Regions from separate parts of the Homo sapiens genome. Here all the other regions are linked to region 1. Evidence: fine-mapped expression QTL. A gene starts in region 1. Each other region holds a variant in brackets. All regions are shown on one strand. Distances are between the middles of the regions. Region 1 holds the start of GADD45G (growth arrest and DNA damage inducible gamma). Region 2 has its middle 22 kb from the start of GADD45G. Region 3 overlaps LINC03062 (long intergenic non-protein coding RNA 3062).

The links. PIP is the estimated chance that this variant, and not a neighbour inherited with it, causes the effect.
Region 2: its variant is the best candidate, but not a certain one, in a credible set for the expression of GADD45G in whole blood (INTERVAL, PIP 0.64).
Region 3: its variant is the best candidate, but not a certain one, in a credible set for the expression of GADD45G in whole blood (INTERVAL, PIP 0.83).

What each region holds. Positions count from the first base shown.
Region 1 is chr9:89,603,719-89,606,477 of GRCh38, forward strand. It overlaps GADD45G (growth arrest and DNA damage inducible gamma), which reads left to right and starts at 1,294. Exons shown (of 4, transcript NM_006705.4): 1 at 1,294-1,456; 2 at 1,714-1,815; 3 at 1,949-2,162; 4 at 2,251-2,759. The coding sequence starts at 1,404. The coding sequence ends at 2,361. It overlaps LOC105376139 (a long non-coding RNA gene), which reads right to left and starts at 1,298. Exons shown (of 2, transcript XR_930105.3): 1 at 1-1,298. RefSeq lists an enhancer at 105-1,003 and a silencer at 614-663.
Region 2 is chr9:89,581,989-89,584,747 of GRCh38, forward strand. No RefSeq gene overlaps it. Among named protein-coding and RNA genes, the nearest start is that of GADD45G, 22 kb to the right of the region's middle. The variant C/A (reference allele first, on the strand shown) is at 1,248.
Region 3 is chr9:89,663,413-89,666,171 of GRCh38, forward strand. It overlaps LINC03062 (long intergenic non-protein coding RNA 3062), which reads left to right. Exons shown (of 6, transcript NR_024280.1): 2 at 1,516-1,970. Among named protein-coding and RNA genes, the nearest start is that of LINC03062, 25 kb to the left of the region's middle. The variant T/G (reference allele first, on the strand shown) is at 1,121.

The sequences.
Region 1 (2,759 bases):
CACCTGAATGCGTTTTGCAGCCCTTACTCGGGTTCTATTTATGCGCAGCTTGGACAGGGCTCACTGGGCCCGGCCGGGCAGCTCCGTGGCCGTCCCTCTCCACCGCCCTTCCCCCGCGCCAGGCCAATGCAAGGGTGTGTGTGTTGGGGGGAGGGGAGGACAAAAGGGGTTCAGGATCTTTTTAACCTGCCTGCAGATGGCGCCCCGGGAAAGATTCCGAGCTGCATTACCTAAGCTCCAGGGGCTGCAGCCGCGGGGTCCCGGCCACAGGGCGTCCAGCCGCGAAGACTGCACAGCAGCTCTCCGTCCTTCCCAACTCGCGCGGCTGTTCGGCACCCGTGCGAGGAACGGATGGAAGGGAATTACTTGTAGCAGGGCCAGTACTGGGGGCGTGCACTCAGGGACCACGGAGTGGCACTCAGCCTCGACCCCACGCGCCAGGCAGCCCGGCGACCCCCACGCGCGGCGGGGTCCTGCCCACCCCACCCGGCGGCAGGTGGACAGTGTTGCTATGAAGAGAAAGCCTCGATTGTCCCTACAGCAAACCGCCACACGCCAGACCTCTGCTATTGTGCGCCCTCCATAGAAATGCAAACGAGCGGCGTGCGCCGGCCGCAATCTGCTCGTCCCCGCCCGCCCCCGTCTCCCGCGCCCCGCCGCGCTCGGCCAAGGGCGGGGAGGTGGGGTGGGATCTTCCAGAGACGGCTCAATGTACACATTGAGTATGCCTGGCAGGCATCACCAGCGCGCTCGGGACGCTAGTGGTCAGCTGCAGGGGGCTGTGCCCACTGCCTTTTGCAAGCCTCTAACTGGCGCTACCTGTTTTTACCTTAATTTCTGGCTCCAATGCAACAGTCTCATAGACTTCAAATTAAAGAAAAGAAACAAATAGAAAGGTAGCAATACAAAATGCAAAAAAAAATCCCTTTGCTTCTATAAAGGTGCTTTTCGCAAATTGCAGCATCATATAAGCAAACAAGGTTTTTGTGGGTTGGGTTTTTTCTTTTTTTTTTTTTTTTACTTTTTCCTTTTAAGGACTTCAAAAAAAAAAAAAAGCCAGGCGAGATGAAATCTGCAGGCTCCAGTCTGCCTGGTAACACCCCAACAAAAGCGGCAGATTTGAGGCATTGTCATCCCCCGCACCCCTCCCCACGTGGCCTTCTGGCACGAGCCGCTGGCTCGCCGCCTCATTTACATCAGAAAGCGGGTGCCGGCCAATAGGCGCGCAGCCTCGCGCCAGCTGGCGGCGCCGCACCCACCAGCCTATATAAGGGCGCGCAGCGTAGTAGGGGCGCACTCGCTGGTGGTGGGCGCGCCGTGCTGAGCTCTGGCTGTCAGTGTGTTCGCCCGCGTCCCCTCCGCGCTCTCCGCTTGTGGATAACTAGCTGCTGGTTGATCGCACTATGACTCTGGAAGAAGTCCGCGGCCAGGACACAGTTCCGGAAAGCACAGCCAGGTGGGTTTCAGGGCGCTGAGAAAGCCGCTGGTCGGTCGGCGACCGTCAGGGTTTTCCAGGGTGGGAATCCGCGGGGTAGGAGGGGAGCGCGGGGGTCCGGGCGCCAGATCCCGGTTGGAGAGCCGGGGTGCAGGCGCTGAGCCGGGATTGGAGTGTGGTTGGAGTTGGGGAGCCAAGGGTGTGTGCCGGTGGCCGGGGCTGGGGTCTCCGCCGCGCCCTCCGGCCGGCTCCCGCTCACTGCGCTGGCTCCTCCGCAGGATGCAGGGTGCCGGGAAAGCGCTGCATGAGTTGCTGCTGTCGGCGCAGCGTCAGGGCTGCCTCACTGCCGGCGTCTACGAGTCAGCCAAAGTCTTGAACGTGTAAGTGTAGACGCGGCCCAGGCTGGGAGACAGGGGCGGGGGTGAATGGCGAGGAGACTGGCGGATGGGAGGGGTGGCGGCGGGAGAACTCGGCTAGCCGGTTCTGACCTAGGTCCCCGCCTTGCCCTCGCAGGGACCCCGACAATGTGACCTTCTGTGTGCTGGCTGCGGGTGAGGAGGACGAGGGCGACATCGCGCTGCAGATCCATTTTACGCTGATCCAGGCTTTCTGCTGCGAGAACGACATCGACATAGTGCGCGTGGGCGATGTGCAGCGGCTGGCGGCTATCGTGGGCGCCGGCGAGGAGGCGGGTGCGCCGGGCGACCTGCACTGCATCCTCATTTCGGTGAGTACAGTCCCGTCCTGTCCCCGCCCCAGTGTCGTTCCCGCCTCGGCCCGCGGCCAGCCAGGCTGACCCTGCTCTCTCTCCGCAGAACCCCAACGAGGACGCCTGGAAGGATCCCGCCTTGGAGAAGCTCAGCCTGTTTTGCGAGGAGAGCCGCAGCGTTAACGACTGGGTGCCCAGCATCACCCTCCCCGAGTGACAGCCCGGCGGGGACCTTGGTCTGATCGACGTGGTGACGCCCCGGGGCGCCTAGAGCGCGGCTGGCTCTGTGGAGGGGCCCTCCGAGGGTGCCCGAGTGCGGCGTGGAGACTGGCAGGCGGGGGGGGCGCCTGGAGAGCGAGGAGGCGCGGCCTCCCGAGGAGGGGCCCGGTGGCGGCAGGGCCAGGCTGGTCCGAGCTGAGGACTCTGCAAGTGTCTGGAGCGGCTGCTCGCCCAGGAAGGCCTAGGCTAGGACGTTGGCCTCAGGGCCAGGAAGGACAGACTGGCCGGGCAGGCGTGACTCAGCAGCCTGCGCTCGGCAGGAAGGAGCGGCGCCCTGGACTTGGTACAGTTGCAGGAGCGTGAAGGACTTAGCCGACTGCGCTGCTTTTTCAAAAC
Region 2 (2,759 bases), 22 kb before region 1:
GCAGCTGGTCTTCCCAGGGCAGGGCACCACTGCAGAGAGAGCTGTGCAGAGATAGAAGCCCAGAGATCTTCGGAGGACCCCCTTTAGTATTTAGTAGAGTGTGGATCAATGAATGTGTACGTGGAAGCTACCCAGGGCTGGGGAGAAACCCACACAAAGGATTAGAGGGAGCAGTACTGGGAACTCACACAGGGCTGGGAATAGTGCCTGCTCCCACCAGGCAGGCTGAAAAAAGACAGAATCTATGGGGCACCGGGGATAGTACGCAGAAGGACCTTGCCCCAGTGGTGGGGGATTGTTAGCCCTAGACTTCAATCTGCTCTGGATTCAAATAACAAATCTTAAAACAAGACCTGAAAGCATTGAACTGTTTCTAAGAATCTTAATTGCCTCCTAGAGCAAAGTTAAAAAAGTATTTGTAGGAATACAGAAATAATCTAGTATCCAATGAGGTAAAATGGATTTCTTTTTTTTCAAGATGGAGTCTTGCTTTGTCACCCAGGCTGGAGTGCAGTGGTGTGATCTTGGCTCACTGCAACCTCTGCCTCCCGGGTTCAAGCAATTCTCTGCCTCAGCCTCCTGAGTAGCTGGGATTACAGGTGCCAGCCACCACACCAGGCTAATTTTTGTATTTTTAGTAGAGATGGGGTTTCACCATTTTGGCCAGGCTGGTCTTGAACTCCTGACCTTGTGATCCACCTGCCTCAGCCTCCCAAAGTGCTCGAATTAGAGGCGTGAGCCATTGCGCCCAGCCGGAAATTATTGACATTGAATAGAAAATCACCAGGCCTGTGAAACTTAACCCCAAATGAAGAGAATAATCAATCAACTGAATCTGACCCAAAATTGATGCTGATGTTGGAATCAGCAGATAAGAGCATTAGGATGGTTATTATAATTGTATTTCTTATGTTCAAAAAGCTAGAGGAAGAAAGAAAAAAGACTAAAATTTGGGTAAGAAACTAAAAAGCATCACTGGACTATGGGACAACTATACATGATTGCCATGTATATGGACATGACTATAGTAGATGGACAGACTATCTAAAGACATCCATGTAGACAGACAGACTATCTAAAGAGATTATGACTGAAAAATATCCAAATTTGATGAAGAGTATAAATCTACCACTCCATAAAGTTCAATAAAACCCAAACACAAGAAAAATGAGGAAAATGAATCAAGGCACATCATAATCTAATCTTAAAAGCAACCAGAGAAGCAGCACAAAGGAACAGATGCAGAA[C/A]AAGAGCAGATTTCTCACTGGGAAGGACACGAGAGAACATGGTGGAGCTGCCCCTTTAAAGCGCAGAGCAAAACCCAAACCTTCAACCTAGAATTCCATGCCCAGAGAAAACATCCTTCAAAACTGAAGGTGAAATACACACGTTATCAGACATACAAAAGCAAGACAGTTCTGACCAGCAGAATGACACTGCCAAAAATGTTAAAAGAAGTCTTTGAGGCAGAAGGAAAATGACCCCAGATGGGAAACTGGATCTAAGAACTGAAGAGCTAAGGTAACTTTATAGCAACTCTAAGACCTTTTTCCTATGATTTAAATTTCCTTAAAAGTAATTGTATAAACAAAAATGATAGGGCAGTGTAGGATTTATAATGTATGTATGAGTAAAATGTGTGACAAATATAGCATAAAGCCCTGGATGAGAGAAATGGAAGTATACTATCTTATGGCTCTTACAGAATACATGCAGTGGTATAATATCACTTGAAGAAAGACTAACAGTTTGAAGACAGATACTATAAACCCTATGGCAATCACTAAAACAATAACAACAACAACAACACGACAACACAACAACAACAAAGCTGAAAAAGAAGGGAATCCAACTAATTAATCCAGAAGAAGGCAGCAAAAAGTGAAAATGGAAATAAAGAACTTGGGGCAAATAGAAAACAAATAGTACACAATAAATTTAAACCTAATCATAGCAATAACCCCATTAAATGTATGTGGTCTAAACAAGCCAATGAAAAGGCAGATTCTATTTATCATAGTACTAGAAACACTAGCAAGAGCAATCAGGCAAGAGAAAGAAATAAAAGGCATCCAAATAGGAAAAGAAGAAGCCAAACTATCTCTCTTCATGGGTTATATAATTCTACACCTAGAAAACCCTAGACTCCACCAAAAGGCTGCTAAAGCTGATAAATGACTTACGCAAAGTTTCAGGACACAAAATTAATGTACAAAAATCAATAGCATTACTATAAACCAGTAACATTCAAGCTGAGAGCAAAATCAAGAATGCAATTCTATCTACAATAGGCACACAAACAAAAAATACTCAAGAATATATCTAACCAAGGAGGTGAAAGATCTCTACAAGGAGAACTACAAAACATTGCAGAAAGAAACAACAGATGACAAAAACAAATGGAAAAACATTCCATGCTCATGCTCGTGGATTGGAAGAATCAATATCATTTAAATGGCTACACTGCCCAAAGCAATCTACAGATTCAATGCTATTCCTATCAAACCAACATCATTTTTCATAGAACTAGAAAAAACTCTTCTAAAATTCACAAGGAATCAAAAAAGAGCCCGAATACCTACAGCAATCCAAAGCAAAAAGAACAAAGCCAGAGGCATCATATTACCCAACTTCAAACTATACTACAAGGCTACAGTAACCAACACAGCATGGTACTGGAAGAATGCAGAGAATGAAACTGGACCCACATATAAAGAAAGAAACTGGACTCCTATATAAAATATGCAGAAGAATAAGAC
Region 3 (2,759 bases), 60 kb after region 1:
TGGGCCATCTGGGCACCTTGGGGAAGTCCCAGGGATCCCCAACAGCACTCCTTTCTCCCTGTATGTTCTATCCCACTGCCTTCCCAGGCGGGCCTGGAGGGAAGAGCAGTGGCCAGGTGTCTTCAGGGTCCTGCAGGGCTGATGGGAGTGGTTTCTGTGGGTACTGTGGCTCTCCTGTGTGGGTTTCCTGCCCTGGGCTCTGTGTGTGGGCCTTGATGGGCACTGGGCTGTTCTTCTACCTTGTGGCACCTGGCCCTGTAGAGATGACAATTTCTGAAACAGGAGCATTTCCTCTGAATTCCAAGGAACTTTGCTCAAGGGCCAACTTTGCCTTATGCAGGCTGGAGCCTGAATGCTCGCTCTGCTACCAGCTGTGTGACCTTGTGAAAAGTCCTTAACTTCTCTGGGCCTTACTTTCTCATCGGGATAATATTACAAAAGGCTGCTTGAGAAATGGGATGCTTTCAGAGATAACATAGAATGAAAGCACCGGGCACAGTAAAATTCAACTGCTATTAGTTCCTTTCTCCCTTATTCAAGAAGGAAGGCAGATGAAAGCAGATTTCAGGAATGGCAGCTTGGAGAAGAGGAGAGGGAGTGGGGGTCTAGAAGAGGAGAGGCAGTAGGGGCTATGATAATCCTCTGACATTGGCTGAGAGCCAGCAGTAAGAAAGAGAAACAAGCTGTCCTTCATGTACCCACTGGCTTCTTCCTTGCACCCTCGGGTGCCGAGCTGAGCTGCAGACACCCAGACCTGACAGCCCTTCCTCCAGAGCTGGCGGTCCAGGTGGGGAGTGACATTTGGCTGATTTCTGATTTTGAAACACAGAAACCAGGAGAGTTGAGTTAAACCAGGTTTACCAATGTGAGTGGCTTATTGGCTATAGGTGCCCCAGCCAGGTATGGAAGTCCAGAGCTGGAGGGTGTGTGAGCTCCCTGAATGCAGGGCCAGCCCTGGCAGGCGAGCACACAGCTAATGGTAATGGATGGCATAGGAATACGGAGCCAAGGTTTCTGGCAAGAAAACAATGAAAAATGCACTATCTCTGAATTTTTCTCTGGGACTCAGTTGAATTTTAGTGGTCATGACCAGAAATGAAATTCAACCAGTTGACTGATA[T/G]TTTTAGAAATGCCTCAGGCTTTATCATCTCAACTCTGGGGAGTGAGTATCCCAGAAATCTTGGGAGTGTGGGTCACAGCACCTGAATGTTAGTCCTTTACACCTGTAACATCAGAATTATGGATTCCTGGGTTCCCCTTGCAGAGATTCTAGTTGGGTTGGAGCCTGGGAATCTGTATAAAAATACCTCCCCAGATTTGGAACCACTACCATAGACAATTAAGCAAAGAATGAGGTAAGGCATTCTTTTCTCCAAAATGTAATTTTCTGGGGCCCTGCTAGAGATGTGTCACCTTTCTAGGCCTCTTCTCTGGTGGGAGCTCAGATCCTCCTGAGAAGGGCACGAATGAGAGAGACTCTGACCTTTCCCTCTGTCCTTTGCTCTAAAAACACAGCCCCGTTTAACCGGACAGAGGATGACTTTCTTCTCTGGAGTGCTCTGGGTCACGCTTGGGGACACATGAAGGATACGCCCTCCCTTTCAGGCTCCCATCGCACGTTGAACCTGGCTTGTGAACACAGCCCTCTGGGACACTACTAGGAACAAAGTGTTCCGGATGCTGCAGAAGCTCAGCTGCCACCTGGAAAACCTGTTTGGCCACTTTAGGTCCAGATGACGGGAGCCAGTCCGGCTCAGGAGAACAGAGCTGGCCCAGTAACACCTCGCTTCCTCCCTGCTGCAGAGACCTGGGAGGGCCCTGCCCAGCACAGCACACTGGAGTGGCCCTGCGGCAGCATCTGGGCTGCTGTACCCATGGTGCCTCCCAGCCCGAGGGGCTCCCGGCAGCTCTGGAGACTCCTGCTGTCACGTCACCTGGCCCCTCACCATCACCATCCTCATCTCTCTTGGGTGGGTATGTCCGCACCATTCCTAGCCTCATTTATTTATTTATTTATTTTTGAGACAGGGTCTTGCTCTGTCACCCAGGCTGGAGTGCAGTGGCACCATCTCGGCTTACTGCAACCTCCGCCTCCAGGGGCTCAAGTGATCCTTCCACCTTAGCCTCCTGAGTAGCTGGGACCACAGGTGCACACCACCATGAGCAGCTAATTGCATTTTTGGTAGAGATGGGGTTTCTCCATGTTGCCCATGGCTGGTCTCGAACACCTGAGCTCAAGTGATCTGCCTCCCTTAGCCTCCCAAAGTGCTGGGATTACAGGCGTGCACCACTGCACCTGGCCTCATTTAAAGACTGAGAAAACCAGATCCCAAGAAATTTGCTCACTATTGAGGATAGCTGTCAGCAGACACCAGATTTGGGCATCGAGTTAGCAAGCTCTGGCCGTGTGCTTGAGTACTAGCCCAAAAAACATCCCCAGAGTCATTTGTAGAATGAGTTCTTCTTACTTACCCTTATTAAAAGACTTAAATGTGCATCAATAGTTCCCACAAAAGCCTAGTGTTACTGTTTTAAATACTGAGTTCGTGAGCCAGTCAAAGATTGGGGCTTTCGCTGGTTCATTAGCTTGTTTCATGTTTGGAAGGAGACCCACGTTTATGTCCAGAATGTGATATTCTGTCTATGTGCTGATCTTAGTTTGGAAGTGGTTTGAATAAAGCCAGAAATGCCAGCATATTTAGTTATGAATCCTGGTTTGCAAAGGTGCTGACTTTGGTTGTCCACAAGATCATTGGCCC